Linked DNA regions of Homo sapiens. The protein of the gene in region 1 purifies or fractionates together with the protein of each later gene. This does not show direct contact. Each region holds a gene or a part of one and is shown in the gene's direction. Other genes may lie near its edges.

What was found.
Region 2: the proteins of NFIC (region 1) and PPA1 purify together in Homo sapiens (affinity purification with mass spectrometry, with the first as the bait; one large-scale study listed by BioGRID). This does not show direct contact.
Region 3: the proteins of NFIC (region 1) and PSAT1 purify together in Homo sapiens (affinity purification with mass spectrometry, with the first as the bait; one large-scale study listed by BioGRID). This does not show direct contact.
Region 4: the proteins of NFIC (region 1) and ZNF326 purify together in Homo sapiens (affinity purification with mass spectrometry, with the first as the bait; one large-scale study listed by BioGRID). This does not show direct contact.
Region 5: the proteins of NFIC (region 1) and CSE1L fractionate together in Homo sapiens (co-fractionation; one large-scale study listed by BioGRID). This does not show direct contact.
Region 6: the proteins of NFIC (region 1) and TTLL12 purify together in Homo sapiens (affinity purification with mass spectrometry, with the first as the bait; one large-scale study listed by BioGRID). This does not show direct contact.
Region 7: the proteins of NFIC (region 1) and LMAN2 purify together in Homo sapiens (affinity purification with mass spectrometry, with the first as the bait; one large-scale study listed by BioGRID). This does not show direct contact.

Annotation. Positions count from the first base shown.
Region 1 is NC_000019.10:3,380,083-3,383,582, forward strand, and holds part of NFIC (nuclear factor 1 C-type), read left to right. Parts: intron 1-1,629; coding exon 1,630-2,161; intron 2,162-3,500.
Region 2 is NC_000010.11:70,202,430-70,205,929, reverse strand, and holds the end of PPA1 (inorganic pyrophosphatase), read left to right. Parts: intron 1-1,014; coding exon 1,015-1,057; intron 1,058-2,743; coding exon 2,744-2,775; 3' UTR 2,776-3,095; downstream 3,096-3,500.
Region 3 is NC_000009.12:78,324,625-78,328,124, forward strand, and holds part of PSAT1 (phosphoserine aminotransferase), read left to right. Parts: intron 1-3,426; coding exon 3,427-3,500. UniProt on the Homo sapiens protein: Involved in L-serine biosynthesis via the phosphorylated pathway, a three-step pathway converting the glycolytic intermediate 3-phospho-D-glycerate into L-serine.
Region 4 is NC_000001.11:90,012,110-90,015,609, forward strand, and holds part of ZNF326 (DBIRD complex subunit ZNF326), read left to right. Parts: intron 1-1,016; coding exon 1,017-1,128; intron 1,129-3,500. UniProt on the Homo sapiens protein: Core component of the DBIRD complex, a multiprotein complex that acts at the interface between core mRNP particles and RNA polymerase II (RNAPII) and integrates transcript elongation with the regulation of alternative splicing: the DBIRD complex affects local transcript elongation rates and alternative splicing of a large set of exons embedded in (A + T)-rich DNA regions.
Region 5 is NC_000020.11:49,091,312-49,094,380, forward strand, and holds part of CSE1L (exportin-2), read left to right. Parts: intron 1-734; coding exon 735-816; intron 817-2,828; coding exon 2,829-2,975; intron 2,976-3,069. UniProt on the Homo sapiens protein: Export receptor for importin-alpha. Mediates importin-alpha re-export from the nucleus to the cytoplasm after import substrates (cargos) have been released into the nucleoplasm.
Region 6 is NC_000022.11:43,170,135-43,173,634, reverse strand, and holds part of TTLL12 (tubulin--tyrosine ligase-like protein 12), read left to right. Parts: intron 1-1,080; coding exon 1,081-1,232; intron 1,233-1,734; coding exon 1,735-1,816; intron 1,817-3,500. UniProt on the Homo sapiens protein: Negatively regulates post-translational modifications of tubulin, including detyrosination of the C-terminus and polyglutamylation of glutamate residues. Also, indirectly promotes histone H4 trimethylation at 'Lys-20' (H4K20me3).
Region 7 is NC_000005.10:177,341,669-177,345,168, reverse strand, and holds part of LMAN2 (vesicular integral-membrane protein VIP36 precursor), read left to right. Parts: intron 1-3,500. UniProt on the Homo sapiens protein: Plays a role as an intracellular lectin in the early secretory pathway. Interacts with N-acetyl-D-galactosamine and high-mannose type glycans and may also bind to O-linked glycans.

The DNA of each region.
Region 1 (3,500 bases):
CTCCGCCTCCCGGGTTCATGCCAATCTCCTGCCTCAGCCTCCTGAGTAGCTGGGACTACAGGCGCCCGACACCACGCCCGGCTAATTTTTTTGTTTTTTTTTCAGTAGAGACGGGGTTTCACTGTGTTAGCCAGGATGGTCTCAATCTCCTGACCTCGTGATCTGCCCGCCTTGGCCTCCCAAAGTGCTGGGATTACAAGCGTGAGCCACCGTGCCCAGCCTTGTTCTTTTTTTTTTTTTTTTTTTTTTTTTGAGACAGTGTTTCACTCTTGGCACCCAGGCTCCCAGGCTGGAGTGCAGTGGCACAATCTGAGCTCACTGCAACCTCTGCCTCCCAGGTTCAAGCGATTCTCCTGTCTCAGCCTCCTGAGTAGCTGGGATTACAGGTGTGCTCCAATATGCCTGGCTACATTTTTTTGTATTTTTAGTAGGGACGGGGTTTTGCCATGTTGGCCGGGCTGGTCTCAAGCTCCTAACCTCAGGTGATCCACCTGCTTCGGTCTCCCAAAGTGCTGGGATTACAGGTGTGAGCCACTGCGCCCAGGCTTTTTTTTTTTTTTTTTTTTTTTGTGACAGTCTTGCTCTGTCGCCCAGGCTGGAGTGCAGTGGCACCATCACAGCTCACTGCAGCATTAAACTCCTGGGCTCAAATGATCCTCCCACCCCAGCCTCCCAACTAGCTGGGACTACAGTTGCAAACCACCATACCTGGCTAATTTTTGTTTTTTTGATTTTGTTTGTTCATTTGTTTTGTAGCGATGGGGTTTTACCATATGGCTCAGACTGGTCTCAAACTTCTGGGCTCAAGCAGTCCTCCCTCCTCGGCCTCCCGAAGCGCTGGGATTACAAGTGTGAGCCATTACACCCAGCCCAACCCTAGCTGCAATAGGCAGAGAATAGGTCCCTGACATCTTTGTTCTCCCAACCTCAGTTTTACCCGTCTGTACAATGGGTTGTCCATGAGCCTCCACCTGGCCCCCTTAGCTTGCTCCATCTGCATGCTGGGGTTCAACATAGGTCCTCCACGGCTGGGCATGGTGGCTCACACCTGTCATCCCAGCACTTGGGGAGGCCGAGAGCCGAGGCGGGCGGATCAGAGGTCAGGAGATCGAGACCATCCTGGCCAACATGGTGAAACCCCATCTTTCCTAAAAATACAAAAATTAGCTGGGCGTGGTGGTGGGCATCTGTAATCCTAGCTACTCGGGAGGCTGAGGCAGGAGAATCGCTTGAACCCGGGAGGTGGAGGTTGCAGTGGGCCGAGATTGCGCCACTGCACTCCAGCCTTAGCGTTAAGAGCAAGACTCCGTCTCAAAAAAAAAAAAAAAAAAAATGATCCTCCACAAACTTCCGCCTTGATTTGTGCCTCTCACATAGTCCAAGTCTGTTTGCTCATCTGGGCGATGGGTTCTTGCAGGTCCCTGATAAACTTCTCCTGGGTCCCCCGGGCCTTTTGCGTGCCTCCGGCGGCGTGCACGGGTCCGCAGCGACCCCCTGCCCACCTCTGCCCAGCCCCTCCCACTCTGCGGGTCTGTTCAGGGCCCCTCCGACCTCAGCCTTCGGGGCCGGGCAGTGGGTCCGCCCTCTGCGTCCCTGGCGCTCCTGACCTCTCGCCTCTCCGGCCTGCAGGATGAGTTCCACCCGTTCATCGAGGCCCTGCTGCCTCACGTCCGCGCCTTCGCCTACACCTGGTTCAACCTGCAGGCGCGGAAGCGCAAGTACTTCAAGAAGCACGAGAAGCGGATGTCGAAGGACGAGGAGCGTGCGGTCAAGGACGAGCTGCTGGGCGAGAAGCCCGAGGTCAAGCAGAAGTGGGCGTCGCGGCTGCTGGCCAAGCTGCGCAAGGACATCCGGCCCGAGTGCCGCGAGGACTTCGTGCTGAGCATCACCGGCAAGAAGGCGCCGGGCTGCGTGCTCTCCAACCCCGACCAGAAGGGCAAGATGCGGCGCATCGACTGTCTCCGGCAGGCGGACAAGGTGTGGCGGCTGGACCTGGTCATGGTCATCCTGTTCAAGGGCATCCCGCTGGAGAGCACCGACGGCGAGCGCCTGGTCAAGGCTGCGCAGTGCGGTCACCCGGTCCTGTGCGTGCAGCCGCACCACATTGGCGTGGCCGTCAAGGAGCTGGACCTCTACCTGGCCTACTTCGTGCGTGAGCGAGGTGAGGTGTGGTGGCCTGAGCGGAGCGGCCAGCGGGGAGGGTGTCTGATGGTGGTGACACGGGGCCAGGAGGGCCTGAGGGAGGAGGCCAGTGCGTGTGGGTATGATGTGGTGGTCTGAGAGGGGAAGTGGGCCTTGGAGAGTGCCCAATGGGGGCGACACGGGGCACGGAGCATCTGAGGGAGGAGGCTGGTGGGTATAGATGTGATGTGGTGGTCTGAGAGGGGAGGCGAGTCTAGGAGAATATGTAAAGTAGGTGATATGGCACAAGGAGAGTCTGAGAGAGGAGGCCAGTGCATATAGATGTGATGTGGTGGTCCAGGCAGGGCAGCAGGCCTGGGAGAGCATCTGATGGGGGTGACATGGTGCAAGGAGGGTCTGAGGGAGGAGGCTGGTGCGTGTAGATGTGATGTGGTGGTCCAAGCGGGGAGGCGGGCCTGGGAGAGCGTCTGACGCCGGGTGACACGGGGCAAGGAGGGTCTGAGGGAAGAAGCCAGCATGTGTAGATGTGATGTGGTGGTCTGAGGGGGGAGGCAGGCCTAGGAGAGCGTCTAATGCAAGTGATATGGTGCAAGGAGCGTCTGAGGGAGGAGGCCAGTGCATGCAGGGCCCAGGGTGGCTGCTGATGGGATGTGGAGGTCAGATGGAGGAGGCAGGCCTAGCAGAGGTCTCAAGTGAGAGATGGTACAAGGAGGTTTTTTTGACAGAGGAGGCAGGTGGGCTGTGGCGCTCCAATGGTAGAGGCAGGATCTCACCCTCACGTCTGAGGGAGGAGGCAGGAAGGCCCTTGAGGTCTCAGGGGGATGAGAATGTCCTAGATGGTCTTGGGCACAACGGACGGCCTTGCTGGGAGCAGGGGTGAGGAGAGGAGAGGGACAGGCCATCCCAGCCCTCCGAGGAGAGCCAAGAGAGTCCTGGCACCGCTTTCTGTGAATGCTTGTTGGTTGATTGACTCTCAGACCATGCCAGCAGAGGCCTGATGAGCCTGGCCCTGCCAGAGGGGTGTTTGCCGGTGGTCAAATGCCTGATGTTGAGACCAGCTAGCTCTGTGGGGTTGAGGAAATCCAAGGCGGCTTCCCAGAGGAGGAGGTGCAGCTGAGCTCAGCTCTGCAGGATGGCCAGGCCACAGTGAACAAGGAGATGCCCCAGGGGTCCTGGCAGGAGCGTGGAGATGAGAGGCCTGATGCCTGTGCCTCTGGTCCCGGTGCTAAGAGCAGGGTTGGTCCTGCAGCTTCTTGGCTGCGTGGCCCTCTTGGACTTCAGTTTCTCTTGCCTGCCAAATGGTGGAGATGATCAGTCTGTAGCTGGATGGGGCTATGGGAGGTTCCAGAAGATCATGC
Region 2 (3,500 bases), on another chromosome or scaffold:
TGACTTGGTTCTAGCAAGGACTGAGGAAGGTATCAAGTTTTAGGTACCATTGCAGGAATGATTCATAATCTAAGAAAGGCTTTCATGTGAGGTAGTAAAAGCACCCGTCAAAGCAATAATTTTGTTTTTGTACTATTTTTAATTATTTGGTTTGGATTAACCAAAAAATTGAACGAGATCATCTTAAATTATTTTCATTTATAATATTAAATAAGGAAAACAAAAGAAAATGAGGTCTGACTTTTTTACTGCCTTGTAAATGGGGTAGAACAAGGAAAAAAGGACAATTTAATGATGAAACCAGTACATTTAGTTTTATCTTTATTTATGTATGAATCCCGACAAAGTTGAGATAAATAAGAAAAATTATAAGGGAAAAGCCAGTGGTTAACTATTATAATTTTTCAGTGAGAACACTGCCCATATTTTATAAATATGTGTGTATATATAAAATTGTTATATATGCATAAATCAGTTTTTATTATTTCAAAAAACATTCTTATTATTCTGCATGTCATAAAAAGTCAAGAGGCTTGAATTTTTTTTTTTTTTTTTGAGACAAGTCTCGCTCTGTTGCCCAGACTGGAGTGCAGTGGCGCAATCTCAGCTTACTGCAACCTCCGCCTCCCAGGTTCAAGCGGTTCTCTGCCTCAGCCTCCCGAGCAGCTGGGATTACAGGTGCCCGCCACCATGCCCAGCTTTTATTTTTAGTAGAGACGGGGTTTCACCATCTTGGCCAGGCTGGTCTTGAACTCCTGACCTTGTGATCCACCCACTTCAGCCTCCCGAAGTGTTGGGATTATGGGCATGAGCCACTGCACTGTCCAAGAGGCTTGAATTTGTTAGCATCTCAGCAGTAGAGCAAACCTTCTATTGTTCCTATATATTATAAATTACGTTTAGATCCTAAAATTTGGGATAGTCTTCAGATTCTCTTAAATTTTTGTCAGTATACCTTTTTAGCTTTTTAAAAAATGAGATTAGACTAATAGATTTTAATATTTTATATTTTAGTTACCACCACCCTGTGAATCTGCCTGCACAGTACCAACAGACGGTAAGATTTCTATTCCAGTAAAATTTCATTAAACATTACACAGTTATGGAAAAATTATGTTACTTTTATTTTTAGTTGACAAATGATAATTAAATATATTTATGGGTACAGTGTGATGTTTTGATATATGTTTACAATGTGGAATGATTAAATCTGGCTAATTACGAAATCATTACCTCACATACTTAATCATTATTTGTTGTGTGGTAAAAACATTTGAAATCTACTCTTAGCAATTTTGAAATAGATGTTACAGTCACCATCCTGTGCAATAGATCACTAAAGCTTATTCCTTTTGTCTAACTAAAACTTGGTACCCTTTGACCATCGCCTGCCCTTTCCCCATCCTTCAGCTCCTGGCAACCACCATTCTACTCTCTACCTCTATGAATTTACCTTTTTTATATTGCACATATAAATGAGATCATGTGGTATTTGTCTTTCTGTACCTGGCTTGTTTTTTGTTTTTTGACACAGAGTCACCCAGGCTGTCACTCTGTCACCCAGGCTGGAGTGCAGGGGCACAATCACAGCTCATTGTACCCGTAACCCCCCCAAGTTAAAGTGATTCTCCCATCTCAGCCTCCCAAATAGCTGGGACTGCAGACATGTGCCACCATACCTGTCTAATTTTTTTATAATTTGTAGAGATAGAGTTTCACCATGTTGCCCAAGCTGGTCTCAAACCAGGTCTCGAACCAGGCTGGTCTTGAACACTAATCAGGCCGGGTTTCGCCATGTCACCCAGGCTGGCGATCCACCTACCTTGTCCTCCCAAAGTGCTAGGATTACAGGCGTGAGCCACTGCACGCAGCCACGTACATATTTTTAACATACACAGGAAGAGAGGGAAGAAGGGTGAGAAGAGAAGCATTTTTAGAATTCTGTAGTGTACGTGGGAAGGAAGATGAGCTGCTACATACCACCTTTAGTGCCACACTGTATCACAGTGGTTTCCAAACCATGACCCATTGTGCCCCTCTGAGTTCCATGGAGGTGCCCGCTGGACACTGGAGGGGACCCTGAGTGGGCTGATCTCCACATTCCCACCTGGCCACAGGCTGCTTCACCCAGAAAACAGTTCTCTCCTCCTTAGATGTCAGAATTCTCTGTAAGATTTTTCTGGTAAGAAAATGATTCTGCCACTTAAAAAAACAAGTTTGAAGGCTGGGTGTGGTGGCTCACACCTGTCATCCCAGCACTTTGGGAGGCTGAGGCGGGCGGATCACTTGAGCCCAGGAGTTCGAGACCAGCCTGGCCAACATGGAGAAACCATGTCTCTACAAAAAAAAAATACAAAAATTTGCTAGATGTGGTGGCACACGTCTGTAATACCAGCTGCTGGGGAGACTGAGGCACGAGAATTGCTTGAACCTGGAAGATGGAGGTTGCAGTGAGCCATGATTGCTGCCACTGCACTGCAATCTGGGCAAGAGAGTGAGACCCTGTCTCGAAATTAAAAAAAAAAGTTTGAAAATCACACTATGCAATTAGCATGAAGTGTAAGGAAGCCCAAAAGAAAACACCTGCATTTGCTGTAGAGAAATTTTGTATGTATGCCTGTTAATTTTCAGGTAATTCATAGTAGGATTCATTAAAGCAAGTATATTAGTCTTTGTTATATGTTAGGTGTATTTTTGATTCTCAACAGGAATTCTAATTTGTTTTTCTTTTCTCTGAATACAGTGGATAAGTGGTTCCATCACCAGAAAAACTAATGAGATTTCTCTGGAATACAAGCTGATATTGCTACATCGTGTTCATCTGGATGTATTAGAAGTAAAAGTAGTAGCTTTTCAAAGCTTTAAATTTGTAGAACTCATCTAACTAAAGTAAATTCTGCTGTGACTAATCCAATATACTCAGAATGTTATCCATCTAAAGCATTTTTCATATCTCAACTAAGATAACTTTTAGCACATGCTTAAATATCAAAGCAGTTGTCATTTGGAAGTCACTTGTGAATAGATGTGCAAGGGGAGCACATATTGGATGTATATGTTACCATATGTTAGGAAATAAAATTATTTTGCTGAAACTTGGCTTAGGATATTTTTATTTTAATCTGAAGCCAACATTAAGTAGGTATGGGTATTTTTTGGTGTTTGTTTTCTGTTGATAGTCTTATAATTCAAATTTATAATTATTAGACGAAGAAATCGCTTATATTTATAGTACTCTTGATACTATGCTCTAGTACATAAGTCCTAGCATACCATTCTAAAGCAAAAGTTTTTAAATTTATATCATATTAGCAGAAAGCACAATGTTGCTCACCCTTTGAAGTTATATATTAATAGTTATTTTTTTACTTCTTCAGTCAACTAATTGGACGCTTAAGTCATTTATATTATATTCTAAGTTATCAGCTGAACAAACCAGTTTGAATGCCAGCCCATCTTCTTACTAGCTCTGTAATCTTAAGTCAGTTTACCAACCACTC
Region 3 (3,500 bases), on another chromosome or scaffold:
AAAAACACAACTTGAGCCAATATTGGGCTCTTGGAAGATACTTAGAGATCTGGTTTCTTATTCCATAATCCATGTGCCTGTGAAAATGGGAAAAAGAAACTTTGACAGGGATAGCCATATGTTTCAGGAAAAAAAAAAGGGAGAGCCTCTTTTTCAGACTAGTCCTCCACGTTTAAAATGTGAGAGAGCTTGTTTGCACCTTCCACACCGGCCCGTCCTACTCATTTATGTGAGTGGTGCGGGGACATGCTGGCTTAGAGTTTGCCGCCCATGCTTGAAGCTCCTCGGTGCCGGCACCTTGGTACAGGCCCTAGTTCTTTTGACCTAGAAAGCTTTTTTTTTGTTTGTTTCCAGCCATTTCCTTTTTTTAATTTACAGTTTGCGTTCAGTGCAAACCCATAGCATGAGACATTACTATGAATCAAAATGTAAATACACAAACACAATATAGAATCCAAAACAGAGGTGCAGCTTTCAGGAATGAAGCAGAAGACAGGTTCATTCACATGCACAGTAGCTTCAGGGCTGTGTGATCTGGTTGTTCCCATGTAGCTTCCTAAAGATGGAAAAAAATGATTTTGGTCATCAAGACTACTGTGGCCATATTAGATACTGGAACCGTAGAAAGTTCTTCATAAGAGCTTTCCAGCAGGTCTGTGCGTTCCCAGTTTCTTCACCCCCCAGTCTCTCCTCTGTGTGCTGTAATTATTTTTCTAAAACACAGACCGCATTTTGTTGTGGATTACTCCTCATTGCTCAAGGATCCAGTCCAGTTCCCAGCAGGGCACTCCACAGCCCCGGCCCTGTAGGTCTTCCAGCCACCCCAGCCAGGAAGCCAGTGCTCCAGTTAAGTCAGCAGACTTGCCGGAAGCCTTTGTGCCTTTGCAGATGCAGCTGTCTGCCAGATGCCCTTTCTTCTCATCTGTTGGAACCATGCCTTGTCCCCTCCCCTGAAACCTGTCAACCTTGCCGCTGCTGAATTCCTTATCTGGCTTCTCTGCCTTTGCAGCCCTTGGCTGTTACAGCACTTCCTACGTATAATTGTGATTCCCTCCGGAGCCATCTCTCTGTAGATTGGAAGCAGTTAATTTCCCTTAATCTTTTTTTCTCCCCCCAGCCCCATACTAGAGACACTCTCCCATGGGTAGTGCATAAATATTTGTTGCATGACAATTTAGTCTTTAATTTCTCACTTTTATGACATTATTGCTTTGTGATATCTTCTACTTTCATGATAGGATGGGTAAATTGCAGGGAGAGGAACTGTAAATACGGATGCTTAATTCTTCCTGCTTTCAATTTTTTTCTGTTAAGTTAAATGTGCTTTTTGTTGCTCCACCTCTCTGATTGGAGCCTCACATTGGGAGCCTGAGGCAGTGGAATATCAAAAGAGGGTAGCCGTTGAATGTTTATTTTCAATGTCAGCCGTGAAACCTACCACTTCGAATAGTGGGGCCTGGAATTCAGGCTCAAAGTCTTTTCCCCATATTTGTTTCCCCCTTTGGCCTCTCTTTTGCTTGAAGCTGTGTACTAGACTCTCATTAACTTTAACAAGAATTACAGATGTGCCCTCAGGGGGCCTCTCACACTGCCTTTATTTGCTGTAATTTTAATGAATTCCACCCGTAGAAGTGTAAGAATAAAAGAGGATATACTTGAGCAAAGGGAAAGAGAGGGTTATTACACATTGTACCTTTTTTTAAAAAAATTGCAGAGTAATGTCAGCTATTCTTCCATTTGTCTCCTTTGGTTGCCAGTGAAAAATAATTTTGGCTGCTTATTTTCCAAAGCAGAAACTGAAGTCAAACACGAACCTTTCCTAGACAAAAATTCACTCATAATCATTTTTGAGAGTCGATATGTACCTTATGCAAAGTGCTGGGAATAAAAAGATGAATTTATTCCCATAAATATGTACACCTACTATGTACCCAGAAAAATTTAAAATAAAAATTTTTAAAAAGATAGATGTATTAACAGGTACTTATATAGCATTTAATATGTTGCAGACATAGTTTTAAATTGTGTCAGTTATTTGTTTCTGCATCATAGAACACCTTAAAACTTAAGTGACTGAAAACAACCACCATTCACTTGCTCGTAGTTTTTTGGGTCAGCAGGTTGGGCTGAGCTCAGCTAGGGGGTTCTTCTGCTGGTCTTGGGATGCCTCATTCTACTGAAGTCGTCATCTGGTTATTCATTTGGAGCCAGATGGTCTACAGTGGTTTCACATATCTGGCAGTTGGTGCTGGCTGTTGGCTGGGACACTTATCTCCAGCACTCTAGCTCAAACATGCTTAAGTGACAGCAATATATATATATATATATATATTTTTTTTTTTTTTTTTTGAGACAGAGTCTTGCTCTGTTGCCCAGGCTAGAGTGCTGTGGCACAATCTTGGCTCACTGCAATCTCCACCTCCCGAGTTCAAGCAATTCTCCTGCCTCAGCCTCCTGAGTAGCTGGGATTACAGGTGTGTGCCAGCACGCCCAGCTAATTTTTGTATTTTTTTTTTTCAGTCGAGATGGGGTTTCACCATGTTAATCAGGCTGATCTCAAACTCCTGACCTCGTGATCCACCTGCCTCGGCTTCCCAAAGTGCTGGGATTATAGGTGTGAGCCACCGCGCTTGGCCATGACAGCAATATTTTAAGAGAGCGGGAGGAGAGGCTGTAAGGTCTTTTGAGACCTAGGCTTGGAAGGTGCAAAGAGTCTGTTGTAAACTCTTGGCCAAAGCCAGTCAAAAGGCCAGCCCAGATTCAAAAGATGGAAAACTAGATTCCACCTCTTCTTATTTTTAAATGGGCCACAAAAATTCTCTATAAAGACTGACTTATTTAATGCTTACAACAACTTGAGGTGGTTGAGGTAGGTTCCTCTATTATTCCCACTGTTCAGATGAGGAAGGTGAGGCATAGCAGAGAGGTTAAGTAACTTGCTCAGGGTCACACAGCTTGGGGCAATACACCATGGTAAGTCCTTTGGAAGTTGCTGCTCATTATTTTTGCCTTACAGCCACTATAGGACCAACTTATTATTTCTCTGCAGCCTTGCAGAGAAAGAGGTCACTCACATTTGCCGTGCAGCTGCCATGTGTTGGAAGCTTCATATATGTAGTACCACTAAACCGTCACAACTAGTCTGAAATGGAGATATTATTATTCCCAGTATTCAGGTGAGGAAACTGAGGCTGATGGAAATTAAGTACAAGTCATACAAGGGGATGATAACCCACTGTTCCATATGCAAGAGTTTGTTTTCCCTAAGTAAACAATAAATGTGCTGGGGCAGATTTTTTGTTTTTTGTTTTTTAAAAAATCTTCTGCTTGCATCTAGGAAGTGTTAAGAAAAAAAAATCTGTTGATTTGTTTATGACAACCCATACATTTCAGAAAAGTAGCTGGAATAATAAACATGTTTTTCAGTTGTCCAGTGGAGCCCCAAAATAGAAGCAAGATGAATATTCCATTCCGCATTGGCAATGCCAAAGGAGATGATG
Region 4 (3,500 bases), on another chromosome or scaffold:
AGGCATGAGCCACTGTGCCTGGTCCAAACAAAAATTTATATATGAATGTTTATAGTAGCATTATTCATAATTGCCAAAAGGTAGAAACAATTGAAATATACATCAACAGAAGAATGGTTTAAAAAATGTGGGTTATTCATACAATGGAATATTATTAAACCATAAAAAAGGAAGTACTTACTAATACATGGTACAACATGGGTGAACTGTGAAAACATGCTAAATAAAAGTCAGACCAAAAAGGCAACAGACAGGATGATTCTAGGTATATGAAATACTTAGAATAGGCAAATCCGTAGATCAGAAAGCAGATTAGTGGTTACCAGGGCCTTAGGGTAGGGTTGAAATGGGGAGTGACTGCTTTATGGGATGATGAACAGTTCTGTAACTAGATAGTGGAGATGGTTGCGTAACTTTGTGAATGTACTTAATGCCATTGAATTGCACATTTTAAAATGGTTAAACTAGTAAATCTTATGTTTTGTGTATTTTATCACAATAGAGAATATTTTTTAAAAAAGAGAACAAATTTGCTTTTATTTTGGAGGTTACAAATTTTAAGAAACTTTCTGAGAGCTCCTACAATATGAACATGAGTTCTTGCATCCAGGGCTCTGCAGTGTTTACTGGACTTCCATTTTCATGCTCGGTCAGGTTACTTTAGTGTTTTTCCCAAAGTATGTGATGCCCAAGATGATTTTAGGTGATAAGGATATTATTGCTTAGAATAAGGATAGGACAAATGAGCACATTTAAAGAAAAATATGTAGCAAATAATCACATAGATGACAAGCAGATATGACAGAATTCATGATGATGGTATTCAAATGAATGAAGTTCATTTAGTGAAGTTTCAGAAATACTGGATAGTCTCAAACTCCGATTTTTTTGGTGAGTTCAATTTTAGATTACAATCACTAAGTATACCTCATAAGTATGTACTTTACGAACTGATGATTGGAAAGAGAGAATGGAAAAATGAATTTTAGCTTTTACTTTTTTGTGTAATATCCTAGCAAAAACTGATCCTAAAAATGAAGAGGAAGAAAAGCGGCGAATTGAGGCTCGGCGAGAGAAACAAAGGCGCAGAAGAGAAAAAAACAGTGAGAAATACGGAGATGGATACAGGTTTGTACTTAGAGTCAGAAAATTAGGTTCATTAAAAAATGATTTCCTAGAAAAAGCCAACACATCAATTGTAATATTAAAAAGTTCTTAAGATTCAAATGAAAAGACTTGTTCAAAGATACAGAGGAATGCTTTTGGTTTTTGATATTTATATGTAATCACTACTTAGAAAACATAAGAAAAAAGGCATTCTATTCATATTGGCAATCCAAAAGATATCAAATATTCAGAAATAACAGTATTCTTAAAAAGAAACACTTGTCATTGAGATTTGACTGTATGGAGTCATAGTGATTTTCATGGGCAGGAATTAAATATTACAAATATGTAAGTTCTTTCCAATCCAGATCCCAAAGGAAATTCTGAAGAAGAGTAAATGAGTAGGTACTGGCTTTTATAGATAATCAATCATTAAAAAGCTATAATAGTTAAAAATATGTGGTAATACACAAAGCTAATTATTATACCAGATTAGCCTGTGAACAGACTGTAAGGAAGAATGTAATATTTAATAAAGAGGATATTAGAAATAAGAGGGGAATTGGGCTAGGCACAGTGGCTCATGCCTGTAATCCCAGCACTTTGGGAGGCCGAGGCGGGCAGATCACGAGGTCAGGAGATCAAGACCATCCTGGCTAACACGGTGAAACCCCGTCTCTACTAAAAAAATACAAAAAAAAATTAGCCAGGTGTGGTGGGTGCCTGTAGTCCCAGCTACTCGGGAGGCTGAGGCGGGACGATGGCGTGAACCCGGGAGTCGGAGCTTGCAGTGAGATGAGATTGAGCCACTGCACTCCAGCCTGGGCAACAGAGCGAGACTCTGTCTCAAAAAAAAAAAGAGGGGAATTGGTTGAACAATGAAATAACAACAAAAATCAGTTTAGAGCCTCCTCATATGACACCTGGAATGAATGTAGTAAAAAAAAAATGAAATTACAGAAAAACAAAATGTTCTGCAAGGAGATTTTTTTCCCAGGCTTAAAAGTTATAGAATAAATTACAAAGGAAATTATGAGCAGATTTGGCTAAATAAAAACTTAAAATTTGAAAGGAGTGCAAACAGACTTGGAAAATATAAACATGAGAAATGATTAATGTCCAAGTTAGATTAAAACATCACCCAAATTATTTTAAAAAGTAAGAAAACTAAGCTGTTTAATATGATGAGGAAACAAAAAACAGCTAGTAATAATTTTAAGGAAATTGTTTAAACTTAACAGTAATTTCATTAAACTAAAAATTTAAATAATAGTATGCCATTTTATTACTAAGGAGAAATTTGATTTGCTAATTAAGGAATGGTCAAAGGACGCTTAAAATTTGTTGGTGACAGTATATTATAACTATTAGCAATTTAGCAGTTTTTTAAAAATGTCTAAATTTTTCTTAAAGCCTTGAGCCCAGAATTTTGAGGCCAGCCTGGGCAACGTGGCAAGACCTCATCTCTAAACAAAACAAAACAATCCATAAAAAGAAGAGTAGTTCTAGTTTCAAGAACTACTGCTATTTTTAGTCCTTGTGAGTTCTCTGTCCCATTCATTATCTCTTGTGATTCCTTCTTTTGGTAGAAGTAACAGGCATAGTTAATATTTTGGTGTAGAAATGACTTTAAATTATCAGCGTCTTGGAGTGTAAAAATCATTTTACATTATAAGATGCAATTTTTTAAATTTAATTGCCCTATGAGTACTTTTCTCATGAAAAATTTTAGATATGGATTATGTTCATGTTAATATAATATATAAAATTGTGATATAGAGAAAATGAAAGAATTGAACTTTCATTTAGCTATTTTCTCTGTAACTCTAAATATAAATCTGATGATATAACCAAAAGAATGTTAACTCATAAATTATCATTTTAGGATATAATTTATTTAAAGTAGTCTAAGTTATTTTCATTTATCAGAGCAGTTTTACTTTGAGTTATGAGGATTCGAGATTGAGTAAATCACTATTCTTGTGATAGGTTCCTTCCCTTGGATATTTGAATGCTTCCCACATAATAAAGCACATGGAAAGGTTTATATCTACCCTTAAGGGAACCTAGGGAGAAAGAGATGGATGTGTGAGAGATGTACATAAATAATAGTGTATGGTGAAGGATACCAGGAGTACAATGTAGTCTCATGAGATATAACTTCTAAATAAGGGTATAGGAGACCAAGCATGGTAGCTCATGCCTGTAATTCCAGTACCTTGGGAGGCCAAGGCAGGCGGATTGCTTGAGCCTAGGAGTTCAAAACCAGCTTGGGCAACATGGTGAAACCTCATTTCTACAAAAAATACAAAAATTAGCCAGGTGTGGTGGCACGTGCCTGTGGTCCCAGCCACTTGGGAGGCTGAGGTAGGAGGATAGCTTGAGCTTGGGAG
Region 5 (3,069 bases), on another chromosome or scaffold:
CTGCTTGGGAGGCTGAAGTAGGAGCATCACCTAAGTCCCAGAGGTTGAGGCTGCAGTGAGCCAAGATTACACCCACTGCACTCCATCCTAGGTGACAGAGTGAGACCCTGTCTCAAAAAAAAAAAAGAAAATATTGTAAGGGCCTGGTGCAGTGGCTCTCATCTGTAATCCCAGCACTTTGGGAGGTGAAAGTGGGAGTATTCCTTGAGTCCAGGAGTTAACGACCAGCCTGGGCAACATGGTAAGACCCTGTCTCTACAAAACAGCCAAGCATGGTGGTGTGTGCCTGTAGCCCCAGCTACTCAGGAGGCTGAGGTGGGAGGATCACTTGACCCTGGGAAGTTAAGGCTGCGTGAGCTGTGATCACGCTCCTGCACCCAGCCTAGGTGATAGAGTGAAACCTTCTCACAAGAAAAAAGAAAATATTTTAAGATGTTTGTGTTCTCCAAACATTAAGTTAGTGTTAGTCATATTGTGTTCCAGAGGTTGGTTTATGGTTGGATACCAAAACATTTTTTCAGTAGAGAGAATATTATAAGGAAATATAAATCAAAGAGAGACAGCATGTAAAGGTCTATGACAGAAAGACAAGTTTTCTATTTACTAGAAGGCAGGTATTGATGCCACAGCCTTTGGATGTTAATGATTAAGCATAGGTTTATTTTGCAGACTTATCAGTTACCAGTTTAGTGCGTGAGTTCTCTATGCTGATATTCTGCATCTTCTTTCAACAGGTTTTTTAGTCTTTATTAATTTGTATTGCATAAAATATGGGGCACTAGCACTACAAGAAATATTTGATGGTATACAACCAAAGTAAGTTTGTTTTTATTATTTTTTAAAGGAAGAAAATGTTTTGACTTTTTTTTTAGTACAAATCAGTATCTCTGTCTTATAGATGATGATGTGGTTCTTGGTATGGAGATAGTGTCTATGGTTTTCAAAATATTCTTAGGTATTGGGAGTAAAGAAAAAGTAATCCTGGCCCAGCATGGTGGCTCACGCCCGTAATCCCACACTCTGAGAGGCTGAGGAGGGCGGATTTAGCTCAGGAGTTTGAGACCAGCCTGGGCAATATAGTGAGACTCCATCTCAAAAAAAGAAAAAACACCCTGGAATCATTGTTCTAATCCTCTAGATTAGAGGACCATCTACTCTACACACTGGCATTCTCCACAGCCAGTGTTCTATATTATGTTAAATGGTCAGTGTTGTCTCCAGGAGCCTGCCTTATTAAAACTAACAGCAGAAAACACCACATGTTCTCACTCATAGGTGGGAATTGAACAATGAGAACACTTGGACACAGGGCGGGGAACATCACACTCTGGGGCCTGTCGTGGGATGGGGGGCAGGGGAAGGGAGGGCAGAGGGAGGGATAGCATTAGCAGAAATACCTAATGTAAATGACGAGTTAATGGGTGCAGTAAACCAACTTGGCACATGTATACATATGTAACAAACCTGCACGTTGTGCACATGTACCCTAGAACTTAAAGTATAATTAAAAAAAAAAACCAGAATTTTCCTTCCCCCTTTTTTAAAAAATCGTGCTAATCCATATCGTTCCAATTTTAGTATATGTGCTGCTAATGCAAACACAGCAGAATTTTTCAAATGAGAAATACTTAGGACCAATAAATTAACTTTGTTTTTGACTTATCTGGTATATATGCAAAGAATGTATTTAGGTGGCATTTCCCATTAGTAGGGAATAAAACAATTATAACGATAAGATAAAGAACAACTCTTAGGGAAAATTTCTTCGGGGACAGTTAGATCCCTGTACCTCAGTTATGTCTCAAAAATTCTACATTGACTAAAAAATGAATTACTCTGGAAAGGAGACCAGAAAACATGGCTTCCGGCAGTAGGGGATTTTGAGGAAATCTCATGCACTGCTAGTGGGAGCCTGAATTAGCCTGATCTTTCTAGAGAGCAAAATGTATGCACTTTTTATCCAGAGCATTAGAATTGCCATACCCTTTGAGCCATATTTCCACTTCAAAGAATTGGTTCTATTAACGCATAAACTGAGGATTTTGCATCATTTAGAATTACGGAAAACTTCACTTCTAGCATGTTTGCAACAACATAGAATGATTGGCCGAATTATTTTAAATAGCCATTAGCATTTATGTACCTGCAGGTATGTAAGCAAAGACAGTTGGGAAGCTTATAACCCAAAAATGTTAAAACTAGTTGTTTCTGGGTGGTGGGATGATTCCTTTTTTCCCTCCTTGCTCCTCTCTCTTTTTTTTTTTTTTTTCTTTTTTTTTTTTGAGACTGGCCAGGTGTAATTTTTAAAGAAAAAAGCAGAGAGGGCCAGGAATGGTGGCTCACGCCTGTAATCCTAGCACTTTGGGAGGCTGAGGCAGGTGGATCACCTGAGGTCAGGAGTTCGAGATCAGCCTGGCCAACACAATGAAACCCCATCTCTACTAAAAATACAAAAATTTGCCGGGCGTGGTGGTGGGCACCTGTAATCCCACCTACTCAGGGGGCTGAGGCAGGCAAATTGCTTGAACCCAGGAGGTGGAGGTTGTAGTGAGCTGAGATCACACCGTTCCACTCCAGCCTGGGCAACAAGAGCGAAACTCCGTCTCAAAAAAAAAAAGAAAAGAAAAAGATTATGGCATTTGGCTACAGGGTAGAGGTGTGATGGGGTTTTTTTATGTTTTGACTTTCAGTCTCTTCAGATGATCAAAAACAGCAGTCTTGTTATTTAGTAATTTATCATATTCATAAGAAGTAACTAACATCTAAGCATTTTACTATTTCATTATAGTGATAATCTAATATTAAGTTGATTTATTTTGCTTTAATAGAATGTTTGGAATGGTTTTGGAAAAAATTATTATTCCTGAAATTCAGAAGGTATCTGGAAATGTAGAGAAAAAGATCTGTGCGGTTGGCATAACCAAATTACTAACAGAATGTCCCCCAATGATGGACACTGAGTATACCAAACTGTGGTAAGTACTTCATTTTAATATTTTTGTAAGTTACAGCTTCCTTCCCATATGACTGCAAAATTAACAAAGCTTATTCTCTTGGGGGCCAAGAGAA
Region 6 (3,500 bases), on another chromosome or scaffold:
ATGGTCCTTATGGACAGGTCCAGGCTGGGCAGGGTGGCTTACACCTGTAATCTCAGCACTCTGGGAAGTGGAGGAGGATCACTTGAGCCCAGAAGTTTGGAACCAACCTGAGCAACATAGGGAGACCTCGTTTCTACAAGGGAAAAAACTTTAAAAATTATCTGGGCATGTTGGCACACACCTGTAGTCCCAGCTTCTCAGGAGGCTAAGGCAGGAGGATCACTTGAGCCCGGGAGGTTGAGGCTGCAGTGAGCTGTGATCGCGTCACTGCACTCCGCCCTGGGCGACAGAGCAAGACCCAGTCTTTAAAAAAAGAACTGTCCTGGGTGCGTCTAATCGCAAAGTTCCTACCACATAGTGTGCCAGGTATGGCTGCCCAGCAGGGTGAGGTGGCTGAGCCTGGACAAGGAGCCTCTCAGAGCCGTGGTAAAGATTCATAGTGAGGGGACATCCAGAAGCAGTATTGGGATTGCAGGACACAGGATCTGCCTGGACTGTGTACATAGTCAGAGGCTGGCGGGAAATGCATCATGAGGACGATTGTCGTGGAGACTTCAGGCCATGGGATGGGGGTGGATGGAATTATGGGTGAGAATTTATATTTCATTTCAATTAAAAATGGATATAAAGACTTTGCTTCAGGGTGCGGTGGCTCACACCTGTAATCCCAGCACTTTGGGAGGCCAAGGTGGGCGGATCACCTGAGGTCAAGAGTTCGAAACCAGCCTGGCCAACATGGAGAAACCCCTTCTCTACTAAAAATACAGAAATTAGCTGGGGGTGGTGGCGGGCACCTGTAATCCCAGCTACTCAGGAGGCTGAGGCAGGAGAATCGCTTGAACCCGGGAGGCAGAGGTTGCAGTGAGCCAACATTGTGCCACCGCACTCCAGCTTGGGCAACAGAACAAAACTCTGTCTCAAAAAAAAAAAAAAGACTTTGCAGCAACTTAGGCAGGTTTGAAAAGGCAGAAGGAGGAGTAAAGTGCAGCCATGTCTGTGCCCCCTGCGTGGCTTTGTGTGCTCGGGAGCCCCAGGGGGCTCTGTCCTGGCCACCAGCGAGCTTGCACCTGTGTCCTCCAGGTTGTGTCCAAGTACATCGAAAGTCCCGTGTTGTTCCTTCGAGAAGACGTGGGAAAGGTCAAGTTCGACATCCGCTACATCGTGCTGCTGCGGTCAGTGAGGCCCCTACGGTTGTTCGTGTATGATGTGTTCTGGCTGCGGTTCTCCAACCGGTAAGTGGAGGGCCGGCTGGGTCCAGGGTCGGGGAGCTGGGTGACCGGGTGGAGGTAGCGGGTGGGTGATGGGCCCTTTTTGGAATCAGAAAATGTTGTTGGAAGGCACCCTCCATCACTCACCCAGCTAGCGGCCCTTGGAGCCCATCTCCCTTGGTGTTAATTGGCGGTGACTTGCCCTGCCCACCTCAGAGTTCTGGTGTTGCCCACAGTAATGGATGTGAACATTCTTTGTAAAATGGGCACCAACATGAGAACCAGGTGCCATTTTTATGGACCTGCAGAGGCTTCACAGCTAGCACCTCACTCACCTCCACCCCAGCTCAGTGGGGCTGTGGGGCTCCCCCAGCCACACAGACAAGGGAACAGGCTCCCGCCTGAGCAGCAGGTGGTCCTGCCCTGAGCCCTGAACCCCTAGTTGGGAAGGCTGAGTGGGTGGCACCTCCCTCGCAGGGACAAGGCCGCTCAAGAACCCATATGTGTCTGCACACTTGTCTTCCAGGGCCTTTGCACTCAACGACCTGGATGACTACGAGAAGCACTTCACGGTCATGAACTATGACCCGGATGTGGTGCTGAAGCAGGTAGGGCCTGAGGGAGGTGCAGAGCAGGTTCACACAGAGGCCAGGGCACACCCGACCCCACCCCGCCCACACTGCCTCCTAGGAGGACTGGCACACAGGCCAGTCCCAGGAGCCGCCTCCTGAGTTCCTGCTATGGAAGGCGATTGTTAGCGCTGCCATCATGAGCCAGGCTGGGTTCTGTGTTGTCTCAGGTAGGTCTCCCCACGGCACAGAGGGCCACTGGCTGTGTTTGAGATAATGTGGACACAGAGGGGGATGGGTCCAGCAGCAGGTTGAGACAGTGTGTTCCCAGCCGGGGCTTACTCCTCACCACCACTTCAACCGGAAAAGCAGACCACCCTGTGAGTGCCAGGGCAGGCGGGGGCGGGGAGGCCCCACCTGGTCCGGCTGGCTGCTGGCCCGTGACCCTGCCCGGGTCTAGGACCTCCTGTCCTCCCTGGTGCACAGTGTTGAGCGGTGCCCCATGCAGTGGGCACTCAGTGAATGGCAGCTGCACCATCTGAGCACCTGGAGCTCAGGGGCATCTGGACAAAGGCCCTTCCAAGGTGGGGGCGAGAAACCAGAGCTGGCCAGCCAGTGTACGTGGACAGGTAGGCACAGCCTGCACAGAAGCAGGAGGCCAGCTCTGGGTACAGGAAGGAAGAAAGGAAGTCCTGGAAGGCCTCTGTGGCCTGGCTGGTTAATGAGTGTTTCAGATGCACAGAACACCTACCCCACCCTGCCTGTCGCCAGCCTTGCAGGTGCCGCGGACTCCCCATGCAGCCAGCCCCAACGCTCCCCGACCCCTGAACGTGTGGCTGTCATTCCCAGGCATGTCTTTGGTTCTTTTCAGCAGGAGTATGTTCCTGACCATTCAAGCTGCTGTTTTGCTTACTTAGGTTTTTTGTTTTGTTTTGTTTTTTTGAGAGACAATGTCTCACGCTGTCACCCAGGCTGGAGTGCGGAGGCATGATCTGGGCTCACTGCAACCTCAATCTCCTGGGCCCAAGCCATCCTTCTGCCTCAGCCCCCTAAAGTAGCTGGGACTACGGGCACGTGCCTCCACGCCCGGCTAATTTTTTTGTATTTTTAGTAGAGACGGGGTTTCGCCATGTTGCCCAGGCTTGTCTGAAACTCCTGGACTCAAGCGCTCCGCCTGCCTCAGCCTCCTAAAGTGCTGGGATTACAGGCGTGAGCCACCATGCCCGGCCTCCTACTTAGGTTTTTATGTAAATATCATCTTATTCAACGGATCCTTCTGCAGCTTGCTTTGTTGGCTGAGTGGCGTGTTTTGAGGTTTTGAGGTTCGGGCTTGTTGCTAACTGTGGCGGCGATTGGTCATCTGAGGTCTTCACTAATGATAAATCATGGCGCGTGAACATGCGTGGAGGCACCTGGCCATGCCCATGTCCGAGGAGTCCTCTAGGAGGACTTGGAGAAAGGGCCCTGCCATGCACTGGTGACTATACCAGCACACACTCCCCACAGGGGCCGAGTGGTCCTGTTGCTTCTGTCTGTCTTATCCTTGCCTGTGTTGAAGCCTACTCCCTAGGACCCAGACCCCCCAGCAGGGCCCCAGGACATTGTTGGAAGTCGCCCTCAGGTTCTGAGCCCCTCCCTTCTGTACTGTGGGGGTCATCCCGGGAGTCCTCTCCTGGAGCTCTGTGCCTGGGGAGGTACGTCCAGCATGGCATGGATGGCGGGC
Region 7 (3,500 bases), on another chromosome or scaffold:
AGGGTTTCACCATGTTGACTAGGCTGGTCGTGAACTCTGGGCTCAAGCAGTCCACCCACCTTGCCCTCCCAGAGTGCTGGGATTACAGGCATGAGCCACTGCGCCCAGCCTGACAATGGCATTTAAAAGATGTCATGGCTATGTAAAAAAATGTTTCCACTGTTGTACGTACACATCTGCACATGCAAGAAAATTTCTCAAATCTTTCTTCCTTTTCTTTTCTCTTCTCTTCTTTCTCTTCTTTTCTTTTCTTTTCTTTTTTTGAGACAGGGTCTCACTCTGTTGCCCAGGCTGGAGTGCAGTGGCGCGATCTCGGCTCACCACAACCTCTGCCTCCCGGGTTCAAGTGATTTTCCTGCCTCAGCCTCCCTAGTAGCTGGGACTACAGGCGCCCGCCACCGCACCCGGCTAATTTTTGTATTTTTAGTAGGACGAGGTTTCACCATGTTGGCCAGGCTTGGTCTTGAGCTCCTGACCTCAGGTGATCTGCCTGCCTCGGCCTCCCAAAGTGCTGGGATTACAGGTGTGAGCCACTGCATCTGGTCAAATTTCTCAAATATTTCTATTGTGATAAAATGTATGTAACACAGGCTGGGCGCGGTGGCTCACGCCTATAATCCCAGCACTTTGGGAGACCGAGGTAGGTGGATCACGAGGTCAGGAGATCAAGACCATCCTGGCCAACATGGTGAAACCCCGTCTCTACTAAAAATACAACTAATTAGCTGGTCATGGTGGCGTGTTCCTGTAATCCCAGCTACTCAGGAGGCTGAGGCAGGAGAATTGAACCAGGGAGGCAGAGGTTGCAGTGAGCTGAGATCACGCCACTGCACTCCACCCTGGCGACAGAGCAAGACTCTGTCTCAAAAAAAAAAAAAAAAAAAAAAGTAACAAAGCGTACCATTTTAACCAGTTTTTAAAATTAAAAAAAAATTTTTTTTTTTTTAGAGATGGGGGGGGTCTCACTTTGTCACGGAGGCTGGAGTGCAGTGGTGCAATCCTAGCTCATTGCAGCCTCGAACTCCTGGAGTCCAGTGATCCTCCTGCTTAGTGTCCTGAGTAGCTGGGATTACAAGGCATGTGCTATTGTGCCTGGCTAATTTTTTTTTTTTTAATTTTTTGTAGAGCTGGGGTCTCACTATGCTGCCCCGGGCTGGTCTCGAACTCCTGGCCTCAAGCAATCCTCCTGCCTTGGCCTCCCAAAGTGCTGGGATTACAGGCGTGAGCTACTGCGCCTGGCCCATTTTAACCATTTTTAAGTGTACAGGTCAGTGGCATTAAGTGCATTCACATTGCTGTGTAGCCATCACCACCGTCTGTCTCCAGAACTCTTTGCTCATCCCAACTGAAACTCTCTACCCATTTAACAATCACTCCCATCCCCACAGTCCCTGGTAACCACCATTCTACCTCATCTCTGTAAATTTGACTATTCTAGGCATCTCACATAAATGATAAATGGAGGCATACAATATTTGTCTTCTTTGACTTATTTTACTGAGCATATGTTGAACGTTCCTCCATACTGTAGTATATGTCAGTACTGCATTCCTTTTTGTTGCTGAGTAATATTCGTGTGTGTGTGTGTGTGTGTGTGTGTGTGTCTAGACCACATTCCGTGTATTCATCTATTCGTAATGGACACTTGGGTTGTTTCCATCTGTTGCCATTGTGAATAGTGCTGCAGTGAACATTGGTATACAAGTATCTGTTTGAATCCTACTTTCAGTTCTTTTGGGTATATACCCAGGAAGTAGAATCTCTGGATCATACGGTCATTCTATTTTTACTTTTTTGAGGACTACCAAACGGTTTTCTGTAGCAACTGCACCATTTTATATTCCCACCAGCAATGCACAAGGATTCCAATTTCTCCACATCCTTGCCAACATTTGTTATTATTTATTTATTTATTGAGATGAAGTCTCGCCCTGTCGCCAGGCTGGAGTGCAGTGGCGCGATCTCGGCTCGCTGGAACCTCTGCCTCCCGGGTTCAAGTGATTTTCCTGCCTCAGCCTCCCGAATAGCTGGGACTACAGGTGCCTGCCACCATGCCCAGTTAATTTTTTTAATATTTTTAGTAGAGACAGGGTTTCACCGTGTTAGCCAGGACGGTCTCCATCTCTTGACCTCGTGATCTGCCCGCCTTGGCCTCCCAAAGTGCTGGGACTACAGGCATGAGCCACCGCGCCCGGCCTAGGGTTTTTTAATATATTCTAGATATTAATCCCTTATCAGATATGTGATTTGCAAATATTTTCTCCTATTCTGTGGGTTGTCTTTTCACCCTCTTGATCATGCTCTTTGATGTACAAAAATTTTAGTTTTAGTGAAGTACAATTTATCTTTTTTTTTTTTTTGTCTGTGCTTTTGGTGCTATATCCAAGAAATCTTTACTAAATCCAGTGTCATGAACATTTTTTCCCTAGATTTTCTTCTAAGAGTTTTAAAGGGTTTTTTTGTTGGTTTGTTTATTGTTTTTTGAGGCAGGGTCTCATTTTATTGCCTAGGCCGGAGTGCAGTGGCGTGAACACGGCTCACTGCAGCCTTGACCTCTCCAGCTCAAGTGATCCTCCTGCCTCAGCCCCACAAGTAGCTGGGACTACAGGCATGCGCAGTCAGGCCCAGCTAATTTTTGTATTTTTTTGTAGAGACAGGTTTTCACCGTGTTGCCTGGGCTAGTCTTGAACTTCTGCGCTCTGGTGATCCACCTGCCTCAGCCTCCCAAAGTGTTTCAGATTACAGGTGTGAGCCACTGCAACCGGCCAGGTTTGAGCTCTTAAGTTTAGATCTCTGATCTTTATATACTTATTATTATTTTTTTTTATAGAGATGGAGTCTTGCTGTGTTGCCCAGGCTGGTCTTGAACTCCTTGGCTCAAGCAAACCTCCCATGATGGCCTCCCAAGGTGCTGGGACTACAGGTATGAGCTACTGCACCTGGCCTCTTTACTTTTCAAATTAAACTTTTTATTTTGACATAATTATAAATTCACATGCCGTTGCAGGAAATAATACAGAGATCCTAGGTGCCCTTGGGTTTTGTTTTTTTATTTAGCATTTAGTCCATTTACATTTAATGAAATATGATACATTTGGGTTTAATCTGCTATCTTACTCTATATATTCAAATTGCCTATTCTCTGTTCATTTTTCTCTCTAGTCTTCTTTTAGGTTAATTTTTATTATCCTATTTTTCCTCTTCTATTAGCTTGAAAGTTATATGCTCTTTTCTCAGTTTTAAGTGGTCACCCTAGAATTTAAAGCAGGCATTCATGTTGTACCAAAGACTAATGATAATGTGTACTTTACCTTCTTCCTGGACAGTGCAAGGATCCTAACACACTTTAACTCCATTTATTGTTGTCATTTGTTTTAATTATTTCTGTTTTAAATCACACAACCCATTGTTTTGTGCAGTCAGATATTTAGATTTTCACCCTTATAGTCACTGTATTTGTTGTTCTTCGTTCCTTCTGGAATCTGACTTTACATCTGGAT